Linked DNA regions of Homo sapiens. The protein of the gene in region 3 interacts with the protein of the main gene of each other region in a pairwise test. Each region holds a gene or a part of one and is shown on either strand. Other genes may lie near its edges.

Region 1 (3,753 bases), on a different chromosome or scaffold from region 3:
CCCATATCACTTCCTAACTTACATCGCTCAGAAGCCTCTGAGGCTCAGTTTTGCACAAGCAGAATTAATGATCTTCCACTGCACTTCTGGTCCTCTTCCAGGATTTCCTCTCCCAGGGCTCAGCAGCACCTTCCCCAGCAAGTTAGGAACTCAGGAACCAACTTTTCTCAGTCTCTTTTCCTCATCTCCCACATCTAATCCATGAAATTCTTCCAATTTTAAGATATAAAGAACTCTTGGATCCCTCCATTTCTCCACTGTCAAACTACCACCCAATTCTGGAATTCTGTAATACCCCCAAATGTATCTGCCTATGACCATTCCAAGCCCCCTCCAATCCCCTCTCCACCTCACAGCTCGGAGGATCTTTTCAAAACTCTAATCTGATCATGTCGTATTTCTGCTTAAACCACCTTAATGACTTACACTTTTAGCCCTAACTACCACTTACAAGGCCTAGTAAGGTCTGACCCTTGCCCACACCTCAGGGCTCATTTTGCATGCTGTACTCCTTCACTCTCTCTGGGGCCAACCACAGTAAATTTCTCTCATTCTTTGAGAGGCATCATGCTGTCCCCTACCCCTTACCCCCAAAGCCACCAAGGACTTTGTACATGCACTTTCTTCCCCACTTCATGTAGTTAATCCCATGCTTCTTTCTGATCTCAGTCCACACATGACTTCCTTGGAGAAGCCATCAGAGATCTCTCCAACAAAGTCAAATCCTTTTGCTATATTTGCTTATGGAAATATGGCCCCCATCTTTGCAGCATACATCTCAGTTGTGATTTTGTATTTATGTGTGTGGGATTATTTCACTTACATCTGTCTGCTTCACTAGACTCTAGGCTCTGTGAAGGACAAGAACCCTATGTGCTCTTGTTAAGTGCAGTGCTTGGCACATAATGAGTGTGCAGTAAATAGTTGTTAGATGAGTGAATGGGAAGACCAGAGAACGCTCTTGCATGTTATTAGCTGTAGTCACAGTAAGAAAGTCCTGTTTCTCTGGTCCATCCACTGGGACTTGGTAATGGTGTGGTCATAGGTAACTCTTCTAGACAATGGTATTTATGATAACTTCATCAGGAATTAAAGCCAAAGTGCTGAGGTTTTGTCCTGGTTCTGCAGTAGTGTGGCCTCAGGCAGGTTATAACTTTTTAAAGTCTAAATTCTAAATGTCACCTACAGATGAGAAGTCTCCTTCTGCCTTTGGCCTCTCACCAGCTGCTTTCTCCATGTCCTCTCCTCCCTCCCTTTTTGCAAAGCTAGGGGAGGGCCTGATGCAGAGCTGGCTTCCCTGTGGGAGGACTGGAAGGAACCACACAGCATGGATACTAATTCCATGAGTCCACATTGGTAATCAGAAACTAGGCCTGCCTTGCTATTTAGAAACTAATGCTATATTCTATTTCTTCAGATAAGCCAGTTTTGAAAAACAAGGCTTGAATATTTGGCAGGACAAGGAGCTACTCCCAAACACAGTTTCTTGCCAGCAAGGATGTCAATTTATCAAATTGAAAGGGTATAACCTAGGAGCCTCGGTTAGGTGTACTGGCTCCCTTTCTCGTTTGATTAGAATGACATACACGCTAATTGATCTCTTTCCGGCTCAGTCATCTCCATGCAGTAAAGAATTTCAAGCTGCTATTGTTTATTTCCTATGTATTATGTCTAAATATTTCATGGTGAATGAAGAAGAGTGACTATTTTCAAACTGGAATGCTTCTTCAGAAGAAACCCAAACTGGAATGTTTCTTCAGAAGAAACTTCAGAAGTCACCAAAAAGGTGACTCCTCCATCTTTCTGATTCTTGGATCCTAAAGTATCTTCAGCAAGTGAAGCCCAGTTTCATAACCGAAGAGGTGACTCCATCTGTCCTACAGACTTGCAGTGTGAAGCTTGCAATGGTTTCTCTGTATGTTAATTTCTCCATCTCTAGGATGGCCTATGTGGTTCTTACTAACCTCAGAGTGGTATCATGAAGCCACTGAAATGATACCAGAAGAAAACAAGAGTGATTAATCTTCTAGGATGATAAATCTATATTTTCTTCAAATTCTTCATTTTGCATAAAAACCTTTTTCAGAAAAGAATGTTAACATTGGATATATCTACACCTGATTTGACAGTTCCAAACTACACCCCAACCACCCACTTCTGAATGAGAAGAAAAAAAAATCAGAAGCCTGCAATTGTGTAACATGAAAATCTTTTCTGGACCAGGGCCCGTCACTGTGATTTGGCAACACAACTGGCACATCTCTTTTCTCATCTCTTGAAAAAAACCAACAGAGAAAAAAGTACCTTGAGAATAAAGGTAATGATTAATCTGTCAGGCACAAAAGGGATTGTTTTGGGGATTTCGGGTTCTAAGTCGCAGATTCAAACAAATAGCAGCGAACAGGGAATGACAGTTCCACCAGAAGACGATTAAGCCACAGCCTCTAATTGGAACGGCATTTGTACAGTCAGAGACTCTTACCAGACATCTCCAGGAATCTGTGAGCCATTGTCAAAACGTCCATTTTCATCTGGCTGTGAAAGTGAGGACCACAACAGGTAGGTATTGGTAGAAACAGGAGTCCTCAGAGAAGCCCCAAGATGCAGCCTGAGGGAGCAGAAAAGGGAAAAAGCTTCAAGCAGAGACTGGTCTTGAAGAGCAGCTTAGCGAAAGAAACCCTCTCTGAGTTCTTGGGCACGTTCATCTTGATTGTAAGTATTTCCTGATTTCCTACATTCAGACCCAATAATGCCTCCCTAGCTGCCAGGCTGGTAGTGGAGAGTTTTGTTTGGTTTGTTTTATTTAAGTTAATTGGGATCAGATTCATCTTTTCCAGGAAGAAACAAGTTACTAGAGGCTGTTTGACTATTTAGGGGTTGTGATATTAAGTTTTCAATTACCTATTGCATTTACCCACAAAAGTTGATGGGAATGGAAGAGAAGGAGTGAGTGAAGTGCCTTCTTTATTTCAGGTATTTACTTATACTCTAAAATGGCTTTGTGATTTAAAAGTCAGTCGTTAGTGTTTTCATTGATCAATTGATTTGTACCCTGCTTGCTTCCTCCAAGCATTGGGGTGACTCAGCCACCTGGAATAAGCATCAATAGTCAATAAATATAGTTGGCAAAAATATACATATGGATGGCAAGAAACATCTCAGTATGACAAGTACTTGACAAGTATTGTGCTGTCAGATCACTTGATTTTTAAGAAATTAAAAATTGCACTAGGTAGAAATAGTGTACCAGGCAATAGTCCAGCTTTAGTTTTGTGTCATTTTTGGTCTCTATTTAAAGCAAAGTAATCTCTAAATATCTTTGGAGATTTACAAGACAATTACAAGAACCTTCTAGATATAAACGAGGGACGACTTCTAAGAACCTCTTGAGGATTGCCCAGAGATTTACTCAGCTATTAACAAGAGACTGGAAAGTTTACTTAAGTGGTCTGGGCTTTCATTTTGCTGCACGTTCTAGCATTCTCTGTATCCTGAAGTTTTACCTGGAACCAGGCCATTTGTGAATAGAAATGTATTATCATGTGGCAACTATTGATTTCAACTGGTTTTTTTTATCCTGCTTAAGGATTTCCTACTCCAGGTATAAATAATTTCATTTTCCTTAAAGTTATAGAGAATAGCCCATAAACTCTGTGCATTAAAAGTTCTTTGCTTGGGGCAAATACATAATAATTTAGAAGAATAAGCTTGGAATGCATCAGCTAAGCCAAGAATGAGAAACAAATGTGAACT
Region 2 (3,753 bases), on a different chromosome or scaffold from region 3:
AAACAAAAAACTCTATCAAAAAGTGGGCAAAGGATATGAACAGACACTTCTCAAAAGAAGACATTTATGCAGCCAAAAGACACATGAAAAAATGCTCATCATCACTGGCCATCAGAGAAATGCAAATCAAAACCACAATGAGATACCATCTCACACCAGTTAGAATGGCAATCATTAAAAAGTCAGGAAAAAACAGGTGCTGGAAAGGGGAGAAATAGGAACACTTTTACACTGTTGGTGGGACTGTAAACTAGTTCAACCATTGTGGAAGTCAGTGTGGTGATTCCTCAGGGATCTAGAACTAGAAATACCATTTGACCCAGCCATCCCATTACTGGGTATATACCCAAAGGACTATAAATCATGCTGCTGTAAAGACACATGCACACGTATGTTTATTGCAGCACTATTCACAATAGCAAAGACTTGGAACCAACCCAAATGTCCAACAATGATAGACTGGATTAAGAAAATGTGGCACATATACACCATGGAATACTATGCAGCCATAAAAAATGATGAGTTCATGTCCTTTGTAGGGACATGGATGAAATTGGAAATCATCATTCTCAGTAAACTATCACAAGGACAAAAAACCAAACACCGCATGTTCTCACTCATAGATGGGAATTGAACAATGAGGAAACATGGACACAGGAAGGGGAACATCACACTCTGGGGACTGTTGTGGGGTGGGGGGAGGGGGGAGGGATAGCATTGGGAGATATACCTAATGCTAAATGACGAGTTAATGGGTGCAGCACACCAGCATGGCACATGTATACATATGTAACTAACCTGCACATTGTGCACATGTACCCTAAAACTTAAAGTATAATAATAAAAATATATATATATATAAGAAAGAAATTTTAAGAAGAAATTCTAAGTTCTTTTTACAGCATTCAAGACCAACCAAGAAATTGCCTCTGCCGCCCTCTACATACTTAATGCTTATTGCTGTCTGCCTTATCATCTATGCTCTGGTAAACAAAAGTAACCTGCTTTTTTGTGACCCCTTTCGTGGGTATTTTTACTCCCCTCTGACAAGAATGCATTATTTTTTCTCCTTTATCTGAGTCTTTAAGACTCAGCCTACATGTTCCCTCCTCCGGATATTGACTCTAGATCCGTGAATCTGAGTTAGTGGTTCCTTTTAGAGGACCTCACAAGGAGCCAGGCATCTGTCTATCACTACGTGCCCCCACCCTATTGTAACTAAGCACTGCATTCTCACCTCTCTATTCAGGTGGTCCGCAGAGCCCATGTCTGATTGATCTCTATGTCTCCAGCAGCCAGCAAGGAAGCACCTCTTTAGAGACCTGCACCTATACAATACCTACCACCTTTTATTTCTCGATATGTGAACTCCATTGAGAACAAACGAGTAAATGTAGGTAATGTGCCTTCTTCTTTTCTTTTCTTTTCTTTTTTTTTTTAGATGGAGTCTCGCTCTGTTGCCCAGGCTGGAGTTTAGTGGCACAATCTCGGCTCACTGTAACCTCCGCCTCCCAGGTTCAAGCGATTCTGCCGCCTCAGCCTACCAAGTAGTTGGGATTACAGGTGCCCACCACCACGCCCAGCTAATTTTTTTTGTATTTTTAGTAGAGGTGGGGTTTCATGATGTTGGCTAGGATGGTTTTCAACTCCTGACCTCAAGTGATCCACCCACCTCGGCCTCCCAAAGTGCTAGGATTACAGGTGTGAGCCACAGCGCCCAGCCAGTAATGTGCCTTCTTAAGTTCTGTGAGCCATTCTAACAAATTATCAGAACAGAGGAAGGGGTTATAAACATCCCCCCACCCCCGATTTATAGCCAGTCAGTCAGAAGTACAGGTGGCCACCTGGGACTTGGATTGGTGTCTGAAGTGAGGACAGTTTTGGGAGAGTGAGCCCTTTAACTTGTGGGATCTGACACTAACTCCAGGTAGACAGCGTCGGAGCTGAATTGAATTGTGAGATACCCAGTGGTGTCCCCAGAGAACTGGAGAATTGCTTGATATGGAAAAGACCCACACATTTGATGCCAGAAGTACTGCATAAGTCGAGAATTGAGTTTGACTTAATCATCATATTTGGGCTTGATTGCGTGGCTGAAACTCTTCCCACTTCAGTAATTGTTTCTTTCATTTTCATGAAACTCTGAAGAAGGAAGGGCTGGACATTCAGATTCCTTGACCCTTGACATTTGGAAGCATGAACTCCAGTCTCTCACAGAAGGCTAGAGGTGAAGGAACATTCAGACACATTGGTTTCTAAGAAGAGTCCGCTGACAACATACCCAAGGTGTCTTCTGAAAATTATAAGAAATCCTGAGTTTCTGTTAGGGGATTGGCTCCAGCTCCATTGTCCCTCCCCCATCATTCAGTAGTCTCCGCGAAAGCCCTTAGAGCCGGTGTTGCTCCACAGGAAGCCAAGAAGCACACAGGAAAAGGAGCTTAGCTGCTGGTAAGTTGGGGACTGACAATTTAAAATTTATCAATGGAACTCCTGCTCTCTGACAAACACCTCCTAAATTCTAGAGCAGTGCTGTAATGGAGCATCCACTTGCCACAGGTGGCTTTTGAGTGCCTATGTTTCTATCTTGATCTGAAATGTGCTTAAGTGTAAAATATACTTAGTGTAGTTTAATCATTAGTATGATCAAAATAATACAATTTATCTCGTTAATAACTTTCATTTTGGTAACGTGTTCCAATGATTTTTTTTATTTGCGGGGTTAAATGAAACATATTATTATAATTAATTTCTCCCAATGATTTTACTTTTTTAACATGGCTACTAGAAAGTTGTAAGTCACGTGTGTGGCTGGCATTTAGGGCTTGCATTACCCTGTCTCTACTAAAAATGCAAACAACAAACTAGCCAGGCGTAGTGGTGGGAGCCTGTAATCCCAGCTACTCAGGAGGCTGAGGCAGGAGAATCGCTTGAACCTAGGAGGCCGAGGTTGCAGTGAGCCGATATCGTGCCATTGCACTCCAGCCTGGGCAAGAAGAGTGAAACTCTAACTCAAAGATAAATAAACATGTGAAGGAGCCAAGTGTGAGGAGCTTAAGAGGAAGAGCATGGTAGGCAGAAGGAACAGAGAAGGCAGAAGCCCCGAGATGACAATGAGCTGCATGTTCAAGGAATCAGAGCCCGTTATGGGTGGAGCCCAGTGTGTCCCACGAGAGTGCAGAGATGAGGTCTGAGGAATGCACAGGGCAGGTCCAGGGGTACTTGAGGGAACTTAAGATAAGGATAAGTTAGAAGTTTGGAAGCCATTAGAAGGTGTTGAAAATAGCATCACCATTTTATTGGACCTTTTTTTTTTTTTTTTTTGAGACAGAATCTTGCTCTGTCGCCCAGGCTGAAGTGCAGTGGCGCAGTCTCGGCTCACTGCAAACTCTGCCTCTCAGGGTCAAGCGATTCTCCTGCCTCAGCCTCCCAAGTAGCTGGGATTACAGGCACCCGCCATCACGCCCAGCTAATTTTTGTGTTTTTTTAGTAGAGACGGGGTTTCATCATGTTGGGCAGGTTGGTCTTGAACTCCTGACCTCAGGTGATCCACCCACCTCAGCCTCCCAAAGTGCTGGGATTACAGGCATGAGCCACTCCCGGCCCTTATTGGACTTTTTTTTTTTTTTTGAGACAGAGTTTTGCTCTTGTTGCCCAGGCTGGAGTGCAATGGCACGATCTCAGCTCACTGCAACCTCCGCCTCCCTGGTTCAAGCGATTCTCCTGCGTCAGCCTCCCGAGCATCTGGAATTACAG
Region 3 (3,753 bases):
TGATCCCTATGGGAAAAATACTCAGTTGAGAGTTTGGAGACCTAGGTTTAGGTCCCAACTCTACTTCTAATGAGTTCAGTGATGGCCTGCGTCACTCAGCCCACCTGCACTTTAGCTCCCTTCTTGATAAAAATAACAAGAGAAACTGTGTATAAAGCCCTTTACAGTTTACAGAGCGTGTGTATCTGGTTTATTTTCACGACACTGGGCAGTTATTTCTGGCTTGTACATGTGAAGTTAGTTGTCCATATTCATAGTGTGAGAAGAACTGTTTTCTCCTCCCAGCATTCCTTTCTTGGTCTATAAAATTAGAACTTCCTCTCCTCCCCGCTCTAGGCACTTGACTGGTGTGGGGTGGAGGAGTGGCAGAGATGAGAAGTAGGAAGTGCAGGGAGTAACTTTTGTAGCTGATGACTTCAGTGTCTACCCTGCAGGTGGGAAAGGGGCTTTCAAGCACTCTTCGTGTTAGAAAGCCTCACAGTTCTGGGTTGAACTCTCTAGTGTATCTTCGTCGGAAATAAAACTAATATTTGGTGCTTTCTCTATTGCCTGTGTCCCTTCCTCAGTTAGCTCAGAACCCAGAGGCAAATGCCTGTCATTAGGTATCTCACAGGATCCCCAACAATGTGACTGGAAAGTGGCAGAAGCAGGATTCAAACTTGCCGTCACTCTTGTCATCTCTTGCTTCCTAGTTTCTGCGCCGTGCAGGTTGTTCTGCTAATATCTGCTAATGTTTCGGGCCCCAGTTTCCTTTGGGAAACAAGACTGGGTTGTGTCTTCTGCAGCCCACACCCGGTGTGCACCTACTTGTGTTTCACCTGTTGAAACGCTAGCTAGTTATAGTAAATTGCGGGGTCACGTGTCAGTATCCACACTGGGATGTGAGCTCCATAAGTACCAAGGCCAGCTCTGTCCGGCTCATCATGGCAACCCTAGTGCGTGACATGTAGTAAGTGTTTGACAGATAATTATGTGCTGAGTGATTATAGATGACACTCAGGTGTCTCAGGAATTCTCCAAGCCGGGGCGCTAGCCTTCAGTTTGCATATTTCCTGTCCCTGAATCCTCCTGGGAAAAGTGGATACTTACACCAGGAAAACTTAACTTCCAGCTTGGCAGGCTCTGTGAGGTTAACTGGGGTGGCTTCACCTTCGATTTGATTCACAGTTCCATCAGCTCTGCAGTGAGTTAAAAAAAGAAAAAATACAAAAAACGAAAAGAGAAAAGAAAAACAACTCATTGAAAGCCAATAAGCAACGAAAGGCAAGATTTGTGCCACTAAGGACCGTGGCAGCCAACACCGTGATTTCTGGTAAGAGAGGCTCTCAAAGGCAGGCTAGACCCTAGCTCCATGGCCTGGCCTTTCCCTTGTGACTGTCTCTGAGGCCAAGCAGGGGAAGAGAGCAGCGGGGTGATAAGAAGCCGCAATTGACAAGCTCCAGGATGGGACAGTATGTTAGGCCCTTGCACTTCAACACTATCTCTGACTATCTTCTATGGCCTGAAAGACCAATTCCTGCTCCCAGTCTCCAAAGAAAGGGAGAAAAGAGAATGGAAAAACAAACAAAACAACCCAACACACAAAGAAGATTCACTTTTTTTTTTTTTTGGAGATGGAGTCTTGCTCTGTCCCCCAGGCTGGAGTGCAGTGGTGCGATCTCGGCTTACTGCAACCTCTGCCTCCCCGGTTCAAGCAATTCTCCTCCCTCAGCCTCCCCAGGAGCTGAGATTACAGGCATGCACCACCACGCCTGGCTAATTTTTTGTATCTTTAGTAGAGACGGGGTTTCACCATGTTAGCCAGGCTGGTCTCAAACTCCTGACCTCAGGCAATCTACCTGCCTCAGCCTCCCAAAGTGCTGGGATTACAGGCGTGAGCCGCCGTGCCTGGCAGATTCACTTCTTTTTAAAACGAGAAGGGCCAAAGGTACAGATGAGGATGGACTTGATCACTGAAAATAATTCAAAACAAGGAGACATAAAAGCGTTCCCCTTCTTTGGGCCTCAGTGATATCATGTGACATCGCCTGTCCCATCAAGGGGCCTGAGTCCAGAGACTCCCTCTAGTTCAGCAAGCCTCTGAGTGAGTGTGGGGGATTTCAATGTAGGCCAAGTAAAAGGAGGCAGTGAAGAAACATTTACTTTATCTCAGTGATTCTCAGGTATGCCCAGATTTCAGAGACATTAAATGTGAAGAAATGCATATCTCACAATTGATGTCACCTGACAATTAGCAGTGTCATTCCTTTCTTAGTGGCATATAACGCAGTGGTGTGTCTTAAAAGCTGGGGGCTTAGATTGGATGCAATACTTTCACCTCTTTGAATGAGCCTGCTTTCTAGATGACTCCCAATGGCCCCATGAACTTGGGAGAAGGGGAAAGGTGTGGAGATGGAGGCACCAAAGGGAGGGTGCTAAGGCATCAGGGTGCTCTTCCTAGGAAGCCAACAGAGGAGAGGATGTCTGTTTATCAATCCTCAAGGCAGAGCAGGGAGGCCAACTGAAATTAGAGCAGTCGTATGTGTTAGAAAGTCAGTAGGTTGGCCGGGCGTGGTGGCTCACGCCTGTAATCCCAGCACTTTGGGAGGCCAAGGGGGGGCGGATCACAAGGTCAGGAGATCAAGACCAGCCTGGCCAACACAGTGAAACCCCGTCTCTACTAAAATACAATTAAAAAAAAAAAAGAAAGTCAGTAGGTTAATGCTATGGTTAGTGGTGACGGATGTCCTAGAAACAGGACAATGAGCAACAGGCCAGGGATTCTGGGAACTGTGCTCTGATGTTCCCAAGTACTTTCTCTGTTTATCACCATGTAAAGCTGGAGACCGTGCCCTCCTCTCTCATCTGGATCTCAGACAGCTGGGGAAGATGGTCTGTTTCTATCTGCATACGTTAACTTAGCAACAAACCAGTCTCCTCCCAGCAGATTCTGCCCTTTTCACCGTCAATTGCATTTTGCTCTAGAACGGTTTTCAGGACACCAGTCTCTGACCATGAAGTCACAACATGTTCATGGAAAAACTGCATTTGTATTTTCAAGAGTGGAAGGTGGGTAGGAAGGAGCTCTTCCTGGGGCTCTTTTTAAGTTTATAGTTGCTTTCCAAAGCGTAGCTTTTTGGATTAATTATTGTGTTAGAAGCCCTCAGTAATAGAAATGTACACTTCTAAAGGATATCCTGTTTACATAACCTAGAGTGTGAATGTTGTGTATGTGATTCTTGCTTAATAAGAAAAGGAGCTTTCTGATAGATTAAGCTGCCCAGAGATGGGATGAACTGTCCTGGAAGGCGATGAGCTCCCAGTTCCTGGAAGTGTTTGAACAAAGCTGGATGCTTCTGTCAGCAGATGGTGTCGAAGCGGCTTCTCTCCCAGACTGGAGGTCAGAAGAGATGGTCTTGATGTTCTTTGCTACCAGAGTATCTATTTTGCAGTGAGTGCAGGAACCCTGTCAGTTTGTGCCCCGCAGGTGGTCATGGAAATGCATAAGTGGATCCTAGTCCTTGCCATCCTTGCCTGCCAAACGCTTTCCTCTCAATTCCTGCTAGGAGCAGGCAGTCCCGATCCAGCAAGGTTCCCATCCTCCCTGACCCAGGCTGCCGGACACCCAGTCACTCTGCATCAGCACTCCGCAGGCCTGGCCCCGGACGCCCACAGCCACTCACCTCAACTCCTGGTTTAACACTTTGATCTTTCCGTTTTCCATTAGTGAGTAGTTGGCCTGGATGCAGCGTCCATTCTCAAAGGTTGTTGGGA

What was found.
Region 1: the proteins of APOD (region 3) and AQP9 interact in binary tests that used the Homo sapiens proteins (3 or more experiments, as listed by UniProt).
Region 2: the proteins of APOD (region 3) and FPR2 interact in binary tests that used the Homo sapiens proteins (3 or more experiments, as listed by UniProt).

What each region holds. Positions count from the first base shown.
Region 1 is NC_000015.10:58,135,965-58,139,717, forward strand, and holds the start of AQP9 (aquaporin-9), read left to right. Parts: upstream 1-2,416; 5' UTR 2,417-2,601; coding exon 2,602-2,712; intron 2,713-3,753. UniProt on the Homo sapiens protein: Aquaglyceroporins form homotetrameric transmembrane channels, with each monomer independently mediating glycerol and water transport across the plasma membrane along their osmotic gradient.
Region 2 is NC_000019.10:51,758,783-51,762,535, forward strand, and holds the start of FPR2 (N-formyl peptide receptor 2), read left to right. Parts: upstream 1-2,397; 5' UTR 2,398-2,448; intron 2,449-3,753. UniProt on the Homo sapiens protein: Low affinity receptor for N-formyl-methionyl peptides, which are powerful neutrophil chemotactic factors. Binding of FMLP to the receptor causes activation of neutrophils.
Region 3 is NC_000003.12:195,570,188-195,573,940, forward strand, and holds part of APOD (apolipoprotein D precursor), read right to left. Parts: coding exon 3,663-3,753; intron 1,179-3,662; coding exon 1,090-1,178; intron 1-1,089. UniProt on the Homo sapiens protein: APOD occurs in the macromolecular complex with lecithin-cholesterol acyltransferase. It is probably involved in the transport and binding of bilin. Appears to be able to transport a variety of ligands in a number of different contexts.